Regions from separate parts of the Homo sapiens genome. Here region 1 is linked to region 2. Evidence: fine-mapped expression QTL. A gene starts in region 2. The other region holds a variant in brackets. All regions are shown on one strand. Distances are between the middles of the regions. Region 1 overlaps LOC124904094. Region 2 holds the start of METRNL (meteorin like, glial cell differentiation regulator).

The links.
Region 1: its variant is fine-mapped to the expression of METRNL in whole blood (TOPMed, PIP 0.98).

What each region holds. Positions count from the first base shown.
Region 1 is chr17:83,053,049-83,062,864 of GRCh38, reverse strand. It overlaps LOC124904094, which reads right to left. Exons shown (of 4, transcript XR_007065967.1): 2 at 3,474-3,517; 3 at 3,076-3,180; 4 at 1,700-2,709. Among named protein-coding and RNA genes, the nearest start is that of QTGAL, 6.2 kb to the right of the region's middle. The variant A/G (reference allele first, on the strand shown) is at 4,692.
Region 2 is chr17:83,075,713-83,085,528 of GRCh38, reverse strand. It overlaps METRNL (meteorin like, glial cell differentiation regulator), which reads right to left and starts at 5,920. Exons shown (of 4, transcript NM_001004431.3): 1 at 5,544-5,920; 2 at 206-591. The coding sequence starts at 5,713. RefSeq lists enhancers at 229-756, 1,656-2,214, 2,215-2,774, 3,368-3,950 and silencers at 3,442-3,736, 3,732-3,951.

The sequences.
Region 1 (9,816 bases), 23 kb after region 2:
TGGCGGTCGTGAGGGCAGGGCCCAGCCCCAACTGTGCTGGATGCCGTCTGAACTGTGCAGGGGCCTGAGATTTTACTTTCGGGCTAACAAGCCTGCCTGTTTCGTGGGTGCTGGCAGGAAGCACCAGACTGCTGGGGTCAGAGATAGAGGATCTTAATCACTCACAGCAAAAGCAGAACCAGAGGGTCAGCACCTTGAGTGGGCTCCCAAGCCCCTTCCCCAGCAGCGATGTGCGGGGGCTCAGACAGATGCTGCCCACACAGGGGACTGCCCACAGGAGAGGCCCTCAGCTCTGGGAAGCCGCTGCTGTACAGCAGGCAGACAGTGTGCCAGCTCTTCGTCCCAGAGAGAGGCATCGGTCACCGTGCACACACCCGTGCACACCCCCCTGAGAAACGACCCCGGGGCAGCCATTGGAGTTTGCATTCCTGGCCCAGCAAGATGGGCAGGAGCAAGGGATCCATGGAGGAGCGTCTTCCAGGAAACACTGGGGAAGCTTTGACACAGCCTCAGACCGTGGGGTTCAGGGAAGCAGCTGGGGGCTGAGTGCTGGCCCTCCCCGGCACGGAATACCGTACAGGCCTCGGGTTTCTGGGTGGCTGCTGGTGCAGTTCCCCATCAGCAGGTGTGGGTCCTACCTGCCTTTATGGCCCTGGTGGCCTGTGGAGACGCCTGGTTGAGGGATGGGGGCTGATGGCTCCTCCCAGGGTGGACCGTTGGGCTCCCCTCCCTGCCTTCCCCACGCTCTCACTGCCCCTCCCTGCCCCAGAGGGGAGACTGCTGGGTGGGTCCCACGGCCAGAGCTCAGCCCTCGTGCTCCGCCTTTCCCCAGCACCGCACACCTGCCTCAGGAGGGGGCCGTGCACCCTCCGGGCCTTCTGCCACCAGACCCAGTTGTGCCCAATGATGCTGTGAGCGTCTGTGCTGAGTCTTCATCAGGAAAATGTGGGAAAGACATTAAAATGGGTGAGGAGGTTTCTGGGCATCCTTTCAGTGGGGGGCCAGGCGAACCCCTGGGTTCTCTGGTGCTGCAGTGATCGGCGCCTTCCTCATCTTTAATGGAGCTGTGAGACAGTTCCCTGCACACCAGAAAGGTGACGGCCACACACAGGAGCCCACGGAGGTGCAAGGACACTTGTCAGTGGAGACACGGCTGATTTCCACCAATGGAAGAGAGAATCCAAAGGGGAGGTTTCAGGCCCTGTGGATATTGGCTGGTTTGGTGATGACTTGGGGGATGCGTTCCAAGCACTCCAGTGGATGCCTGAAACCTTGGATAGTGTTGAACCCTGTATAGACTATGTTTTGTCCTATATGTACAGCCCTTTGATAAAGTTTAATTTGTAAAATAGGCACAGTAAGAGATTAACAATCACCAATCATAAACAGCAATTACAACAATCTATGGTGATAAAAATTATGTGAATGTGGGATCTCCCTCTCTCTCAAGGTATCTTACTGTGCTGTACTCACCTGTTTTCTGCAGTTGAGCACAGACAACTCAAGTCGGGGATACGGGGGACGACTGTATTAGCAAGTTCGTTTCAGCTCGATTGCCTAAACCTGTGGATTTTCCTTTGAACCAGTTTTAATATCTTCCTGCTTCCCTCATGAATTAATAAGTTAAATAAAACTTTTGACTTAACACGTGTATTAGTCCATTCTCGCATCGCTATCCAGAAATACCTGAGTCTGGGCAATTTATTTATTTATTTATTTATTTATTTATTTATTTTATTATTATTATTTGTTGAGATGGAGTCTCGCTCTGCTGCCCAGGCTGGAGTGCAGTGGCGGGATCTCGGCTCACTGCAAGCTCCGCCTCCCGGGTTCACACCATTCTCCTGCCTCAGCCTCCCGAGTAGCTGGGACCACAGGCGCCCGCCACCACGCCCGGCTAATTTTTTGTATTTTTAGTAGAGACGGGGTTTCACCGTGTTAGCCAGGATGTTCTCGATCTCCTGACCTCGTGATCTGCCTGCCTCGGTCTCAACAAAGTGCTGGGATTACAGGCGTGAGCCACCGTGCCCGGCCGAGTCTGGGTAATTTATAAAGAAAAGAGGTTGAACTGGCTCCGGGTCCCACAGGCTGTACAGGAAGCGTGGTGGCTTCTGCTTCTGAGGAGGCCTCGGGGAGCTTCAACTCGCGGCGGAAGGCGAAGCTGGAGCAAGTGTCTCCCACGGCAGGAGGAGGAGGAAAAGAGAGGGGGAAGGGGCCACACACGTTTAAACAACCAGATCGCAAGAGAACTCTGTCCCAGGACAGCACCAAGGGGATGGTGCTGAACCCTTCATGAAGGGTCCACCCGCGATCCGGTCACCTCCCACGCGGCCGCCTCTGACACGGGGGATCCCAGTTCGACATGAGGTTTGGGTGAGGACACAGATCCAAACCTTATCAATGTGTGTTCATTCTAGATTTGTGTGTCATGATTTTACTTTTTTGAATATTATCTTTTAACCCTTCATTGTCTGATACAACAGAGTCTCACCAATTAAACTTTGAGAGACCCATTTATGAATCCACACCAGGCCCTTGTTTATGAAGGATATTATGAGACATTTAGTCAGTCATTGAACGATACTTACTGAGCATCTGCCGTGTGCCAGCAGTGAGGGGAGCAGTCTTCTCCGCATGGGGTCATCAGAGGCTTCTGAAACCGACTGGGAAGTCAGAGAAGATCCCAGAGGAGGCGATGCTGGAGGCTGGCTTTGAAGGACAAGGAGGAATTCACTTTAGGGTCCTACCTTAATGAGGGGGTGTTGAGAAGGACAGGGTCTGGGTAGCTGGAACCACCCACAAAAGGGCAGCCATGCTGTCCTGAAAGGGTGGGGATATGGACAGCTGTCACCAGGTGAGCCTGGATTCAATCTGCATTTTGTTTGTTTGTTTTTGAGACAGAGTCTTGCTATGTTGCCCAGGCTAGAGTGCAGTGGTGAGATCTCAGCTTGCTGCAACTTCTGCCTCTCGGGTTCAAGCAATTCTTGTGCCTCGGCCTCCCAAGAAGCTGGGATTACAGTTAGCCGCCACCACATCCCACTAGTTTTTATACATTTAGTAGAGACGGGGTTTTACCATGTTGGCCAGGCTAGTCTCCAACTTCTGACTTCATGTGATCCACCTGCTTCGGCCTCCCAAAGTGCTGGGATTACAGGCATGAGCCGCCGCACCCGGCCAGATCTGCATTTTGGAAAGATGCCCCTGTTCACTGTGGATGCGCAAGAGGGTGAGGCAGGGAGACCCGGGGTGGACGTGCCAGGCAGGCCTGGCCCCGCAGGGACCGTGACATGGGGCAGTAGAGGTGGGTTTTAAGGTGGTGGATCTGCAGGTGCTGGGTGTGCCAGGTGGCAGTGGCTGGAAGTCTCCAGGCCTGTCCTGGTGTGGGACGCCCAGGAGGTACCTCAGGTGTGTGGGGCAGGTGTTGGGCATTGGGGGCAGGTGTTGGGCATTGGGAGCAGGGTTGTGCCTCCTACCTGGGGGCTGGGGGTGCCTGGGCCAAATCCGCCAGAACCGGGACCTAAGAGTTCAGAGGGCATCAGAAAAACGCAAAGACCCACTGGCACCCCAGAAAAACGCAAAGACCCACTGGCACCCCAGAAAAATGCAAAGACCCACTGGCACCAGGCAGGTCATACTCCATGAATTTGTACATTCAGGCTTTTGGTACCCAAAGTTGGTGTTTCCATGGCGACAGGGCCCGAATGGCCATTGAACTCTCCTCTAGCCTGCAAGAGCCAGTGTGGGTCTCAGGCAGCTGACAGCCTCTGGAGGGTGCATGGACGGGCTGAGCGGGGGCATCTTCCTTGCTGGGCACAGCACAGGTGACCAGGCCGGGGTGCAGCTGCACGGCCGCACTGACCACTGAGCAGGTTCTGAAGGGCCGTCTACGTATGCGCTGGGGACAGGACCCTCCCCCATTAATGGTGCCCCGGCAGCCTGCTGTGAGCCCCGCCTTCCACAGCCACATCAGACTCACATGGTCCTCTTTGGGTCACCAGGGACTTTGGGCTGAGTCCTGCACCTTTAGGAGCTGAATAACCCCATTTGTTCTCAGGACCTGGCCCGGGTTCCCCTGCCCCAGCCTCTCCGGCCCCTCTCATGCCCCATGTGGGCTCTTCGCTCTCCCTGTGTAGACCACACCCACCACCCCACATTAGAGCCACGGACTCATCTTTCCCTCCAGACTACGGCAGGCACCACAGCGAGAAATGCGCTTTCTATCACGGTCCAGCACACACTGGCATAGAACGTGCAAAACCAACACAAGCTTTACAAATCAATGCAGCTCTTACTATATGGGACAGACTCACACTTCATCTTTAGGAATTGCCAGTCAGAGCCCAGTGTACTGACCCCATGACCCCTGGTATACTGGCCACAACCTGCAATTTGAAAACTACCCTAGGCCCTGGCACTGAGCCCTTCCCAGAGTGGATGCCCAGGAACGCTTGCGGATTCCATCCAGTCACGGGGACGGCTGGGCTGCCAGCTCCTTCGGTGATCCACGTCAACACCACCCTTGCCTCCCTGGCAACTTGGCGGGCCAGGTGCACGCGGCGGCTTCTCAGTCCAGCGTTCATGTCTGTGCACTGACCGTGTGAAGCCGCGGCACCGAGCACCCCTCAGTCAGCAGTGCAATGTGGGGAGCGCTGGTGCGGCTCCCCAGGCCGGCCAGGTGTCTCGCCTGCATC[A/G]GCCGACTTGACTCCACTTTGCCATGAGGAATGGATGCCTCTGTGGACACCAGGGCTGGCATGCCAAGGCCACTTGGCCAGGACGTGGCAGAGCTGAGGGCAGGTCCCGGTGTGGCCCCTGGACTGGCTTCACGCACTGTCCAGATGTGGCTTCTCCCACAGGCTGGCATCACACCTGCTTCTCGGCAGCTGTCTTCCACGTGCGCTGCAGGGCCAGCTGGGGAGGACATCTGAGGGAGGCCGAGGCAGAGCGGGGGCGGCTCCACCTTCGACAGTGACATCAGGGGCACCACAGGGCCCTCACAAGGTCTCATGCAAGACGCAGAGGTGCCCTGGAATGTCCTGCTTCCCATTTATCCTCAGCATTCACTCAGGCACCAGTCGAGCCCAGCCCTTTCTCCCACGTGTGAAAAATGTTATGTTATCTCATGGGAGTGAGTTCCATAAATCACGCTTGGAACCCCCATGAGACGTCTTCCGCCCCTGTTTAGGAGGAGAGTGTCTAATTGAACACGGAACGTTGTTCAGCACAGGCCTTTCCCGTCCACGTCAGCTGCTAACAACACAGGTGCCCCTGCATTGAGCATAACTGGGGCCGCACCCACTCGGCGTCCGCAGGCACCTGCCATCCACTGTAGATTTCCCCAAGACTTGGAGAGCTGTGGGCTTAGGTCACCTCCAAATCCACCTTGAGTGCTGAGTGTGCAGGAGGGCAGCTCCGGCTTGCGGGGCCGTCCCCTGGAGGTGAGGCTGCTGTCTCATTGTGCATCTCCTCCTCCTGCCAACCTGAGAGCTGGCTCCTCTGAGTCAGCCTGTCCCACCCTCCGGGTCCTAACTCCAATTCCTGCAGGGTGGCCTCTGCAGTGAGAAGAGCCTCAGGCCTCGGGACACCTGTGGGATCCTGCAGTCACCACCCCAGGGCCAGGACAGCAGAAGCCCCGAGGCGCAGCTCCAGCTGACAACAAGCAGGGGCTCCTCACTGCTCGGATGGAGAATTCTCCAGGCTTGTGGAGGTCCAGGGTCCAGCCCTCGATGTGGACCCTCAGCAGAGCACGCTGGTCCTGGCCCCCTCCCCGCTCCTTCCTGGCCCCTGCCCCAGCCTCCTGGGCGTGAAACGCTCCATGTGCAAGCCCCTGACTCCGGCTCTGCGTTCTGGGCTCAGGCGGGACGGGGGAATCCAAGACAAACATGGTCCCTAGTACTTGATGCTCACCTAGAATCCACAGCGAGCATCTGCCCGGCTGATGACGGAACGGTTCTGGTGACAGGAACCTCCCCCTTCCTGTAGGCCCAGGGAAGGAGGGCAGGCTGTGGCTCCAGGTCAGTCATGTGGCACTGGGCTTTAACGAGGTAATATTTGCTTGGAAGTTTGGAGACGCTCCGTCAGTCGGATCTCCTTCTCTTTCCAGAAGGCCTGACGGTGCAGGTGGGTGGAGCCAACACTGACTGCGTGCTGACTTGGGCAAGGCGCTGGGTAGGGCTTGGTCCCTCCAAGGGGCCACATGAGGCCGTCCCTTCCCTCTGACGTGTAATAGAATTTCACGGATCTGCAGAACGCCGTCACCTCAACTTCTCTGTCCAGGCTCTGCAATTCACAGGCTTGACTTTCCTTTCGTAGGATCAGCCCGTACCCCCCGGAGCTCCAGGCCGGTACCCCCACCCCTGGCTCAGAATTATCCTCCTGAATTGACTCTGGGTTTCCCTGTGCAACTAGAATCCTACAATCCCCAACAGGTCTGAATCCCAGGAATGTGGGCGGCTGAAAAATGGAACTCGAGGGACCACATCCGCACTTAAGTCTACTGTCCTGAAGACTTTTTCATTTATTTTTTTGTAGATTACTTTTTTAAAAAGCATGGGCTGCAACTCCTTAATAAGTCATTAAATCCACATGGTGAGTCACAGCCTTTAAATAGCTGAGACAGAGTAGGAGAGATGACCTCAGTGCACACATCGCCGAACAGCCAGGCTGCCCTCACGGGCTGCTTTATTATGGGGGTGCTATGGTCACCACGTGCAGAGTCTCCTACAGTCTCGAGCGACCCTGCCCTCCAGGCAGCACCCACTGCCTAGGGGAGGTCGAACCAGGTCTGTTGAGGTTCATCCCCTCTGGAGACTTGGACACACGAAGGTCTAGGGGATCAGGCTGTTGAAGGAACCTGTTGGGCTCTTGTCTTTAAAGCTTGAACTCAGCCCTCACTAGCTGCACTCACATCAGAATCATTCTTACTGGGGACCCAGTGTCCCCCAAGTCTAACACCGTCCGTGCGGACCTGCAGGGAACCTCTGTCTCCCCACCCAGCACCGAGTCTAACACCATCTGTGCGGACCTGCAGGGAACCTCTGTCTCCCCACCCAGCACTGAGTCTAACACCGTCCGTGCGGACCTGCAGGGAACCTCTGTCTCCCCACCCAGCACCGAGTCTAACACCGTCCGTGCGGACCTGCAGGGAACCTCCCCACCCAGCACCGAGTCTAACACTGTCTGTGGGGACCTGCAGGGAACCTCTGTCTCCCCACCCAGCACCGAGTCTAACACCGTCCGTGCGGACCTGCAGGGAACCTCCCCACCCAGCACCGAGTCTAACACTGTCTGTGGGGACCTGCAGGGAACCTGTCTCCCCACCCAGCACCGAGTCTAACACCGTCCGTGCGGACCTGCAGGGAACCTCCCCACCCAGCACCGAGTTTAACACCGTCCGTGCGGACCTGCAGGGAACCTCCCCACCCAGCACCCAGTCTAACACCGTCCGTGCGGACCTGCAGGGAACCTCTGTCAACCCACCCAGCACCGAGTCTAACACCGTCCGTGCGGACCTGCAGGGAACCTCCCCACCCAGCACCGAGTCTAACACCGTCCGTGCGGACCTGCTGGGAACCTCCCCACCCAGCACCGAGTCTAACACTGTCCGTGGGGACCTGCAGGGAACCTCTGTCTCCCCACCCAGCACCGAGTCTAACACCGTCCGTGCGGACCTGCAGGGAACCTCTGTCTCCCCACCCAGCACCGAGTCTAACACCGTCCGTGCGGACCTGCAGGGAACCTCTGTCTCCCCACCCAGCACCGAGTCTAACACCGTCCGTGCGGACCTGCAGGGAACCTCTGTCTCCCCACCCAGCACTGAGTCTAACACTGTCTGTGGGGACCTGCAGGGAACCTCTGTCTCCCCACCCAGCACTGAAGGCTGCTGAGAAGTTCTTCGATTTGGAGACCTGATGTCTTGGTCCATTTGTGCTGCTGTAACAAAATACCTCTGACCATGTGATTGATAAACAGTAGAAATGTATTGCACACAGTTGTAGAGGCTGAGAAGTCCAGGATCCAGGCGCCAGCAGACTTGGTGTTTGGTGACAGCCTGTTCCCCAGAGATGGTACCTTCTATGTGTCCTCACGTGGAGGAAGGGACAGAAGGGCTCCTTCAAGTCTCGTTGAAGGGCACTCGTCCGTCATGAGAGGACAGCCCTCACGGCCCAGTCACCTCCTTAAAGCTCCATCTCCTAACCACATCGCCTTGGGGGTTAGGTGTCAACATATGGTTTGGGGGGACACACACATTGAGACCACAGCACCTACTCCAGGCCCCTGGCAACTGGTACTGAGTCCTCTGAATATAGCCAGTATTCGCCAAAACCTTTTGCACAAACAACAATTAAAAATAAAGAAAACTGGCTATCTGCAATGGCTCTCACTTGTAATCCCAGCAGTTTGGGAGGCCAAGAGCTCGAGACCAGTCTGGGCAACAGCAAGACCCCATCTCTACAAAAATAAAATAAAATAAATAAATACAACTGCCCACTCAGTGAACCCAAAGCTGTGGGGCGTTTTGTGTCACTTCCTCTGCTGGTGCCCACGTGACGTCAATCATCTTTCATCAGCACCTCACTTCCCTCTGAACGAAGACCACACGATCTCCACCCGGCCAGCTCTGAGGCCCCAGGTCCTCCTTCCTGTCTCTCTCCAGGGTACAGTGTCAGTGCCTTCTGTCCGGGCCCTCTGCTGACCTCTCCCCGAGGATCTTCCTACTGCGAGGGCAGTGATCTCAGGCCCCACCACCCTTGGATTTCAGGACCCCACCTCTGCAACCCTGCATTTCTGAAACGCACCTTGGCACTTTGAATGTTCCCAAAAAGGAGATTCTAATCAAATTTGAATTAGGGGGAAGTCAGTGAAAAGCAAATTTCTGGCACCAGGAAATGTACAGGAAGGAAGGTGAGAGGCAAGCCCAGTTCTGGACACCATGTGCTGTGGAGGGGCAGAAGCCATCTGTGACCCCTGACCTCTGGCCCTTACCACCTACCTTATCATGAGCCTACGGCGCATTCTGGCAGCTACAGGGCTACTTTTTACTGAGTCCTTTACAATGAAATGATTCCTAGTACCCCAACCTCTGGAGAACATGAAGTCCCTGGAAGCAAATTCTCAGATAGCTTTTGCTGAACGGTAAATAAGGCTGCATTTTCACTCATGTGACTTAAGCAGTCCACTTGTAAAACAGGCTTTGCAAACAAGGAGGCAATTTAAGGGAAAAAAAACCATCTATGAAGTGATGCTTAACAGAAGTTTGGCTTTGTTGTAACGGTTAATTGACAGAATGATTTGCATTTAATCTTAGTTTTGGACAGCCAAGGATTTGTCCAGGAAGGGCTGCTTACAGCCATGCTCATTAATTGTGAATTACTCATTACTTCAGATCAGCTGGAACAAATCCCAAGCGGGCTTAATCTCTGTGTGCAGGCAGCCCAGGGCTAATGGCAGCAGTCCTTTTTATTGACCCCCACGGCCCTGTCCCCAGTCAACCTCCTCCAAGCAGGGAGTTTCCAGAGGCCTCACAGCCGCCTGGGAGACCCCTCATGGCAGGCTGCTCCCTTGACAAGTTCAGAACTGCTGGGGTTCCCGGCCGCGCGTTCAGGACTCAAATCTGGAGATATCCGCTCTGTGCTCCTCAAGTATAAGGTTAGATAGGGATGGGGCCTGGCCTGTGTTCCTGGCAGGGAAGGCCACCTCTGAGCTCCCCCAGAGCCCGGCCGCCTTCTCCGGGTTCCCAGCCCTGCAGTTCCCAAGGCTGCATGCGGAGGCGGAAATGAGGGCAAAGGTGGAGGGTACCCGGAGCTACTGAGGTCATGT
Region 2 (9,816 bases):
GGCCCCTCTGCGGGCGCCAGTGTCCCCCAACCCCAGCCACCTGGGGGGCTCTTCAGGCAAAACAGTCATGTCCGAAGCACAGACACAGAAGGGTTTTCACCAAGGCTGAGCAGACGAGGGGACAGGAAGAAATCAGAGACACCTGCCACATCACCAGCCCCGTGATGACGAGGCCCGCCGCCCCCGCCCCAGGCAGGACACTCACCAGACAGCTCGTGCAGGTCCGACGCCCTGTGCCTCCTAACCAGCTCGTACTGGAAGCCTGTGGTCCTCCGGCCGATATCCTGCTGCGGCGTGGCCTCCACGAACAGGCCGCCCTGCTCCAGGCCAAAACACTGCACCCGGCCGGGCCTGCCGTCCCCGTCTGGTACCAGCAGTCTCAGTTCTCCAGTTTTTTCCAAATAAATATTGGCCCCCGAGGAGTCCGTGAAGGACCTGATGCACACGGTCAGGTGCCGGGCAGGCGAGAAGGTGTTGGGCCGCAGGTTAACGATGAGAGCACCTGTTGGGTACATCCACTCCACGGCACCCGCCGCACAGCGCAGATACACCTGCTCCACCTCCTTCCTGTGTGCCTCGTGCGTCAGCCCGCTGCAGAGGAGAGACACTGTCAGCCAGGCCCGGAGCTCCCGTCACACACCCCACCCGCACCCACAGAGAGTCAGTGAGGACGATACCCGCTCCAAATGATGGCGGCTCCTGGACCCACCCGCTGCCGGCCACAGGTGCCACACGGACCCCTGCCCGTGAGGCAGGCCGGCGCCATCTCCGCCCTTCGGCACAAGGGCCCCACCCAGTTCCTTCCAGTGCACCTGCACCAAGAGCCATGGTGGGGCGGGGCCGAGCTCCCGGGAGTGCAGGCGGTGCTTGTCCCCAGGCCCTCCAGACACCCTCCAACACTCAAGAGTCTGCGCCTCTGCTGCCGTAGCGTCAAACACCAATCTCTGCGATGTCCCTGAATCAGGGTGGCTGGAGGTGCTGGGGCAGTGGGATGGAGCCCCAGGGAAGGGATGGATTCCTCCAGAATATCACGGAGTATCACAGGAATGCCAGCAGGCCCTGTGTACCAACCCTGGTTCCAGATGACCACGAGGGCTGGGACGCTAGAGGTAAAGCGAAGGTGGGGCCCCACCACGTGTGAAGGAGGAGCCCTGGGATGCAACCTGCCCAGAGAGCAGCTTTTAAGTTAATCCAGAGTGTTGGCAGTTTGGGGGGAAGGAGGTTGTAGATGAGTTTTGTCTTTTAGCACCTCATTAAGCATAGATGTTTGTACATTTCTCAAAGTAATGACTTGACCGTTTTCTGCAAGCCTGAAGACCCTGCACTGCCGACGGTATTTGTAAATATAAGCTATCATTACAGCAAGACTCACCACAAAAGCGAGGCGAACTTCCTCCACAGGGTGAGTAGTGTGTGAGTAGCAAGCTAAGTTCACCCTCATACATGCTAAACAGAAAAAAATGAAGTGTGCTACACTCTTGGAGAGGCAGGTCCTGAGTAGAAACAGTTATATTTTCAAGAAACTGAAACATCAAAACCCTCACGCTTCTCAACACTTTAACGTAAATGCCAGCTCGTGGCTAACAGCCACGTCATAACCAAGTGGGCCTGGAACTAACCCGGTGACTTCAACTAAGTGTTTTATTACGCAGATCTCAGACAGGTTCACCCACATTCTTAGGATTTTTATGTGAAATAAGCAATGCTGTTTCCAGAGCCCTGGCCTGAGCGAGTCACCAGAAACCCTTTCTGCAGCAGAGAAAATGCATCACATATGGTTTGCATTTACCGCTGGTGACTCACACTCTGGGCCCCCAAACCTCACTCTTCATAGGCTGCAGGCCACATCAGAGGGTGGTGTCGAGGGTGCACCCCTCCTCACCCTCTCCCCACCCCGACAAGGCCCCAGGTCACGAGTGGCCAGGCCTAGCCGGCTGCCAGGATCACACACCCAGAACAGACTCACAAATTACAGCCCATAAAGCTCACACAAGCTCATCTAACACGTGTGTGGGCAAGGGCACGATGATCGTGCTGTGTGGAAACTGGACTCGGTGAGTGGCTGATACACTCAGCTACAGTCAGCTCTCTTCTTATGCAGCCTCATCGTCACGTCTCTCCCTCCCGTCTCTGGCATCGAGGCCACTGTCCTCCTGCCCGTGCTCAGGCACCGAGCCTCGACCCTCTCTCCACATACACCGTCCTGACACGTTGCCTCCCTCTCGGGGAGTCCTGAAGGTCGAGGGAGCGGGCTCTGGTCACCTCTGACAGCACTGCCTTCATCTGAGCAGGCGAGGGGAACAGCCACAACTCAGCTGGGGACAGGCGGCCAACCCACCTCTGCCCAGGAGGAGGCCGACTTGAGCCTGGGGGCCGTCCTGGCCTAGCACATGCTACCCGCATCTGGTGGGCACGCCTGGCTCCACCCACTCAGAAGACACTGGGCAAAAAGAGGAAGAGGACAAAATGAAGGTGGACACAGAAGAAAGAAGACACCCGGCTACCCCGGCCTTCACCTGACGTCTTCTCAGCGCACTCAGACGGGTCTGCACCCAGCACAGGGCCTGCTCCCCTCTCCTCTCACATTCTCCCGAAACATCCAGACCAACGGGACTCCAACCAGACCCGCTGACGTAGGGATTTTCACATTAAAATCAGTAGCACATGATGCGCAAGACCCGTGTAGACAAAAAAAGTTAAACGATGCATCCTTCAGCCTGGGACCCAGCAGACCTCGGCACGAAGTCCGAGACTCATGGTCTGTGCTGGTTCCTACCAGAAAATCGAGTGCCTCAAATCTCTCACCTCCAAATATCCAGCACCTCAGCAAACCTGAAAACAGAGTCTGTTTATGCAAAATTGCTGGCATTGCAAAAATGTGACCTATCTTTAATGGTCATGGATGAGGGCATTTTGTGATTTTCACGTGAGATGCAGGTGACACAGTTCTGCTGTGATAAAACTGAAGCGTGCAGACAAAACCGTGGTTCGTTCAACTTTAGGAAACTGACAAGGCTGATCTGATGTTGGATCAACAGACTGAACAGATACACTTTTAAAAGTCAGCAAGGGTTACCACCCAGGTGGACATGCTTGTGGGGCACCTTCATGGAAAGGAGGGCAAATCCCAAGTGGATAAAGGGACTCACTGAAGGGGGGCGCAGGTGCACTGGAGGGTTGTTGAGGCACCAGCCCACACACCACAACTCTGGGTCACCAGGACAAAATGCCCGGCTCCTGTATGAAAGTCAGGAAGGGCTTCGAACCCACTGGCAGGTTAACTTTCCTTTCCCCACCTTGCAGGAGAGACGAACCAGGTGTGACCGCACCTGCGATGCCCGGGCTGACAGCAAGTGGGAAAGTTCATGGTCCACATTTATGAGCACTGGCTGATAAAGACGGGGCGCTGGTCCCGCCTCCCCCCACGGAAGGGAGGTTTCATCATCTCCTACTTAACTGCTTAGAAGAAACACCCAGCAACAGAGGCCGTCGATGCAGTGGCCAGTGTCATGAGGGGCAACTTTCCAGCTATCGGGGGATGAGAATCCACCCAGCACACCAGCGCTCGCTCCACCCTGTGCTTCGTCAGGACAGCTGGTAAAAAGTCACAAACACCGGAGGGTAGCAGGCAGGCCAGCGCACTCCGGTTTCCACAGCGAGTCTCTGTCACTGATTCGTGACGTGTGTGGATCAACGGGGCAGTGACCACAACAAAAGGAAGTCTCACTTACGCCCCAGAAACACAGCCGGGCCCCGTGTCCCCTCCAGATCACACCCGCAGCTCCAGCAGCCCCCACAGCTGCCCTCTGCCAGGCTCTGCAGGTGTGTGTGTGTTGGGGGGGGTCCCCTGTGTGTGTGTGTGGGGGGGTCCCCTCTGGGGAGTCTGAGGCCAGGACTGGCAACGATGGCGAAGAGGGCCTCCAGGTAGACAGGAGGGTGCGCAGGTCCTGGAGGGCAAAGCACTCCTGTCCCGCTGCTGTCACCTGCCTGGAGGAGCCGCCCGCCCCTGGAGGTGGAGGGGTGGCCTCCCCGCCACCCTCGGCTGCCTACCGCGCCCTCCCTTCGGGCTCCGGGAGGCGCCCCCTCCTACCGGGCACACAGTCCCCTGACACCCTGAAAAGGGCGCCGGCCCCTTCTCGACACACTCGGCCTGGGTGGCGGGGGCGGCGTTTCTGGCTTCGGTCTGCTGGAGCGGAACGCCCCGGGCCTCGGTTCGGGGATGCACCGACCCGCCGGGCAGAGGCAGCGAGCCGGGGCTGAATCACTCCGCGGGGGCAGGGGCGGCCCCAGAAGAGCCGTCGGCCTCGGAGGCTCCCGGCGCCGGCGTTCCCGGCCGACCCCCCCCAGACCTCCATCCGCCCGCGGCCCCGCTCGGCCGAGAAGGGAGGCGGCCGCTCCCGGGACAGCCGGGCACCGCCCACGGCCCTCGGGGCGACTCTGCCCCCCAGCGCCACGCCCCTTCCCCCGGGGAGGCTCCGCCGGGGGCGCTGGGGGGCGACTGTGGCTTCGCGGGGACCCGGAACGGAGGCTGCGGCTGCGGGGAGACCTGCGCCCGCCCCGCGGACACCACCCGCCCCGCACCGGCTCTGCCCCGACCTTCTCGGAAAACAGCTTCGCTCGACATCACCGCGTGACTCGGCCCGCGGCGGGGGCGGGGGCGGGGGCGGGGGCCGCGCCGAGGGGAAGCGGGACCCAGGCCCGGGCCAGCCCGGCCACGGCTCTCCGGGAGGCGCGCGTCACTCGGGTCCCCGCGCATCTGCGAACCCCGGAACTGGCGACTGCGAGGCTCGCGCAGGGCGGGTTCGGCCGCGGTGCCCTCGGCGCCCTGGGCTTCGCGTGGGAGCGGCGGCGGCTCCCGAGGGGCAGTCGCGGTCGGCGCCGCTCTCGGCGGCCACGCTTGAGTCAAAAAAAAAAAAAAAAAAAAAAAGTCCTCGGCCGCCACCGCGGGTGGGGGGGGGGGGGGTCGCCCAGCGCAGCGCGCGCCGCGGCCAAGGGCGGCCTGACCTTCACGGGGCAGGGGCGGGGGGCCCGGCCGGAGCCACACTCGGCCCGGCTCACAGGTGCCCGCCCGCGGCTCCCCGAGACGGAAGTGGCCCCCGCTGCGGTCCGCGCCCGATCCCCGAAACCGCCGCTCCCTCCCGCGGCCGTCCCTTCCCGCTCTGGCCCGGGGCGGCCTCGGGGCGCGCAACTCCCGGAGCCTGCCAGGAAGGGCCCGAGGACCGACCCCCGCCTGCCCCCGGGATGGGGTCGCGGGACCGGCGGCCCCCGAGGCTCGGACACGCGCGGAGCCGGGACCCACCCGGCCGCGCTGCAGGCGCGCCTCCCCCGGGCGTCCTCCGGGCCGGGAACCGGGACGCCGCGGGCTCTTTTGTTCTAGAACCGGGGGCGGGGGACAGCGGGCACCGGACTGGGCCTGGAGAGCGGCCCCCGGAGCCCCTGCCCCGCGCCCGCCCCCGGCCGCGCCCCCGCACGCTCGGCCGGCCCGGGACGGGAGGGGACGCGAGGGGAGGGGGCCGGGCCGGGGTCGCGCCGCGCACACTCACCTCCCCTTCCAGCTGCACCGGTCGCTGGAGTACTGCGCGCCCGCGCCGCCCAGCAGCCCGGCCAGGAGCAGGAGCAGCAGCGGGAGCGGCGGCGGGGGCGGGCCCGGGGCGGGGGGTCGCGGCCACGGCTGCCCCGCGCGCCCCCAGGCCGCCCGCGCCGCGCCCCGCATGCTCTGGCGCCGGCTCCGCCGCCCGGCCCCGCGTCCGCGACCCCCGGAGCAGACCCCGGAGCCGGCGAGCCGGGCGGGGGCGGGGCGGGCTTCGAGTCCGGGTGGTCACGTCGCGCGCCCCCCGCGTCCTCCGCGCGGCCGCCCGCCCATCCCGGCCCGCTGGAGCCGCGCGCAGAGCTCCGCGCCCGCCGCCGCCGCCGAGCCTCTGAAGTTGGCGAGTCCGAGTCCGCCCGGCCGGGCTCAGCTGGGGGGTGGGGCCCACCCGCCGCCCCGCCCCGCCCCCGACCCCGCCCCCGACCCCGCCCCGCGCCGGAAACTCCTCCCGGGGCGCCCGGCCGGACGCGCAGACACCGAGTCAGCAGCGAATCGGGGGCGCGGGCGCCGGGGCGGGGGGCGCTGCAGGAGGAGGGGGCCGCGCCGGGCGGCGAGCGGGGTCCGGAGGGAAGAGCCCGGCCTGGAAAGCGGAGTCCGGGGCCGGAGGGGTTGCAAGGCGAGGGCGGGGCGGAAACCCGAGACCCCCAAGTAGTGGCCGACGCGAGCCGCGGTCGCCCCCCGCAGACCCCCGCGAGGCGGTGCCGGGGCCGCATCCTGCGCCCCATCCTGCGCCCCATCCTGCGGGCAGCCCCGGCGCGGAGCGGTAAAGGAGGCTCCCGGCCCCGCCGGTTCTGGGTCCCCCGCGCCTCGCCAGCGGGCGGTGATCAGGGGCGATCCGGGCGCCCCGCGTTCCGCAGAGTTGGTGCCTCGGGAGTTCCCGGCTCCCTCCTGACCGGGGGGGAGGCCCGGCGGTGAGCCCGGCTTCCCTCCCTCCTCCCGGAGGACGTGCAGCCGCCGCGCCGGGGCCTCTGCCGAGCGCTGCCCACTCCTCGCTCCGGATACGCGGGGCCGGGTGGTTCTTGGGGTGGGGACGTCCTGCGCATGGTGGGATGTTGGCAGCACCCTGGCCCCCGCACTCTGGGTATCAGTAGCAACCCCCGCCCCAGCTTTGACAACCTAAACTCTCTGCAGATTTGGCCAAATCCCGCCCCCACCCCGTGCCCGCGGGGCAGAATCACCTGCGGAGCGTCCTGCTCGAGTGTGTTCCTCGGAGTCGGCGCCTTCCCCAGGTGGTCACCGCGGCCACCACGTGCCTGACCCAGTGGGGGGGACAGCGGAGACCCCCGCCCGGACTGGGGAGGCCCTAGAGACTCAGGCCAGAGAAGGGGAGCCAGAGGGTGCCGAGGGCCCCCCAGGCAGGAGAGGGCGGAGCTGGCCCGCCCGGCGGTCCCCGCTGCGATGGCAAAGCTGGCTTCTGTGTGCTGCGGGTCAGTGGCCCTGCCCGAGACGCCTGGTGTCAGTTCCAGAGCCGAGCGCAGCATCCAGCGGTGGGGAAGCTTGGCCTTGTCCCCTTTTCCAGCCAAGATACCTTCCAGGAGGACTTGCGAACGACCTGTGCAAGTCTGAATAACTGGGTTGTGACTACCAGAGGAGGCGGGGAGAGGGCTTTGAAAATTGTGAGTCTGCAGGGACGGAAGTCACCGGCAAAGGCAGGTGGAGCCCAGCCCCCAGCCCAGGAAAGCTGGGACAAGGGTGAGGGTCTGAAGAACTGGAAGGCGATGACAGTGACCACTGAAGGTAGTTTCATTGTAAGGATCTGTTCAGAGCACCCACCCCATCGAAAGCCTGGAGCCAGGACCTTGCCCAGCACATCAAGTGACATCACCCTGAGGCTCAAGGTCTGGTGGAGGTGCATTTCGGAGCTTGGAGACTGCCCCACCCACCCCCGTCTGCTCTAGGAGTGCACCTCCCCCCACCCCCATCACTGCAGGTACCAGGGTGCCCAGTGGAAAGGGACCTGCTGTGGAAAGGGACCTGCTGTGGAAAGGGACCTGCGGCTTCACACCTGTGCGCAGCAACTGCTTTCCATGCCCACCAAGCATAAGATAGCAGCCCCCCCAGGCCCGGTCCACCCTTGAAGGGCCACATGGCCTATCAGGGTCCAGATCATCACACCACGGAAGAGGCAGGGCAGTGCTGGGATCTCTTGAGTTATAGATGCGGACATGGGGAACTCAGGACCTGCCGTGACCTGCTCAGGGTCTCAGAGCCCCTGGTGGCTGCTAGACCGAAGGGGAGAGGCCGCCTCTGGTCAGCAGGCAGCTGGTTCCAGCCTAGGCTGGGGCAGAGATCTGCCACCTGGCAGGATGCCCAGCCTCCTGTGCCCAGCGGGCTGTCCTAAGACTGGGATCGTACGATGGTGAGTATGGGACCCACGTGTACTTTTCAAAACCCGTAGAAAATACAGCACAAGAGTGAATCCTGATGGAGGCTTGAGACATTTGTAATAATAACGGATCAATATTGGTTCTTTGACTGTCACACGCCTACACCCTAATGAGAGAAGGTAATCATAAGAGAAACTGGGTCAGGGAGAGGGTGTGTGGGGGACCTCTACCATCTGCTTGGTGTTTCTGTAAACCTAAAACATTAAGTCTGCTAATTAAAACAAAACAAAACTAGAGTAAGAATGCTTGCTGGCCAGTATTCTCGGAAGAAGCTAATCTGTCTTGGGAAAGGAGCCTGGCCCTTTCCACCCTGGGGCTGTGGTTCCCCAAGCTGTTCCCTTGAGGAGGTTCATGCCCCAGAGACATTGGGTGCTCCTGGGCACCTCTGCTGACCCCTGTCCTGGCCCAGCGAGGCCACCTACAGGTGAGACGTCCCCTGTAGACGGGGTTCCTGGTGTCAGGAGGTATCAGGCTCCTAGAGGATGCAGGCTGAGGTGGTCAAGGCTGTCTGGGGGTGTTCCCAGCCACTGGTACACTGCCCCTTGTACCACCAGACCCCGAGAGGCCGATTATGAACCAAAAGGATCCCAGCTGGTCATGGTGTGTGGCCCTCCCCCTGGTCCTCTGGGAGGGTCTGCAAGGAAAGGGCCTTGGGTGTGTTTGTCCCTGGATGTCTGGGAAGGGACTGCTTCCCAGTGAGCATGTCACGGGGTTAGACCCAGGAAGGGGCCACAGCATCATCCCACCCACCCACTCGTGGGAAGGAGCTGGTCTTCGCAGCTTTGCGTGAAGCTCTGATACTTCCTACCTGAGTCGGAACGTTGAGGCTGAGCCGTGGAATCGGAGAGCTCCAGAACCCACCAGGATCACGCCTGCCCATTCCCTCTACCGGCGGGCCCTGCAGTGATGCTTCTGCATCCTGGGAGATGGCAGCTAAGGGACCTGGGCCAGGGGGGCCTGTGGCCCAACCGTAGGTCTACATCAACCCTCTCTCTTTCCTCATCTATCCATTCCCTCGAGAAACAGCTCTCAGAAGCCTCCTGGGCAGACGTCCGTGAAAAAAATTCTGGGTGCACCCTGGACAGTCCTTCTGTGCCTCACCAGGGTCTGAGGCCTCAGAAAGCAGGACGTGGCCTCCCATGTCCGAGGACCACGACCCACTGTTAGGATCGAGTGACCTCGGCAGGGTCACCTCTGTGTATTTGACCCGGGAGTTTTTATCGCGTGCATTGCAGGGACCCAGCACCTGGGAATTTGCTGGGGTGGAGGGCTGTGGGACTGGACCCCTTTCTCGGCCTTTCCTATGCCGGGTGCCTACAGGCCCTGTGGGGTGGTGGACGGACCTGGCTCGGACGTCAGCCCCCAGCTCTGGGTCACAGACATGGTGGGGTTGGAGTCTGTTTCTGAGCCTCAGTTACCTGCAAAGTGGATCTGTTCTTGATTCCCAGGGCGTCGTAGGGTTTACGATGTCAGGATTCAACGCCACGTCCCCAGGTGGGGGCTGATTCTCACCTGTTCAAGGCACCACCGGGCTGTCATCAGGCCTTGGGGCCCTCATGGGGCTGGGTGGGGGGAACCCCTCCCGCCGTGCTCCCCACAGCTGCGAGTTCTCTGAGCCACTGGCACAACCCGGTGGACTTTACTGCTTTTATTTTTGGCCCAGTCTTGAGGTTTTCAAATGTGTGTTGACGGCCAATGTGCTGCCCAAGATGACCAGTCACCTGAATCCACTCACTAAAGAAACAGCTCCTCCCAGAGTAGCTGGATTCCTCCAGAAAAACATCACACGGTTTCCCCAAGCGCGTCCATGAAATTTTCTCTTTCAGCATTTGAAAAATACTG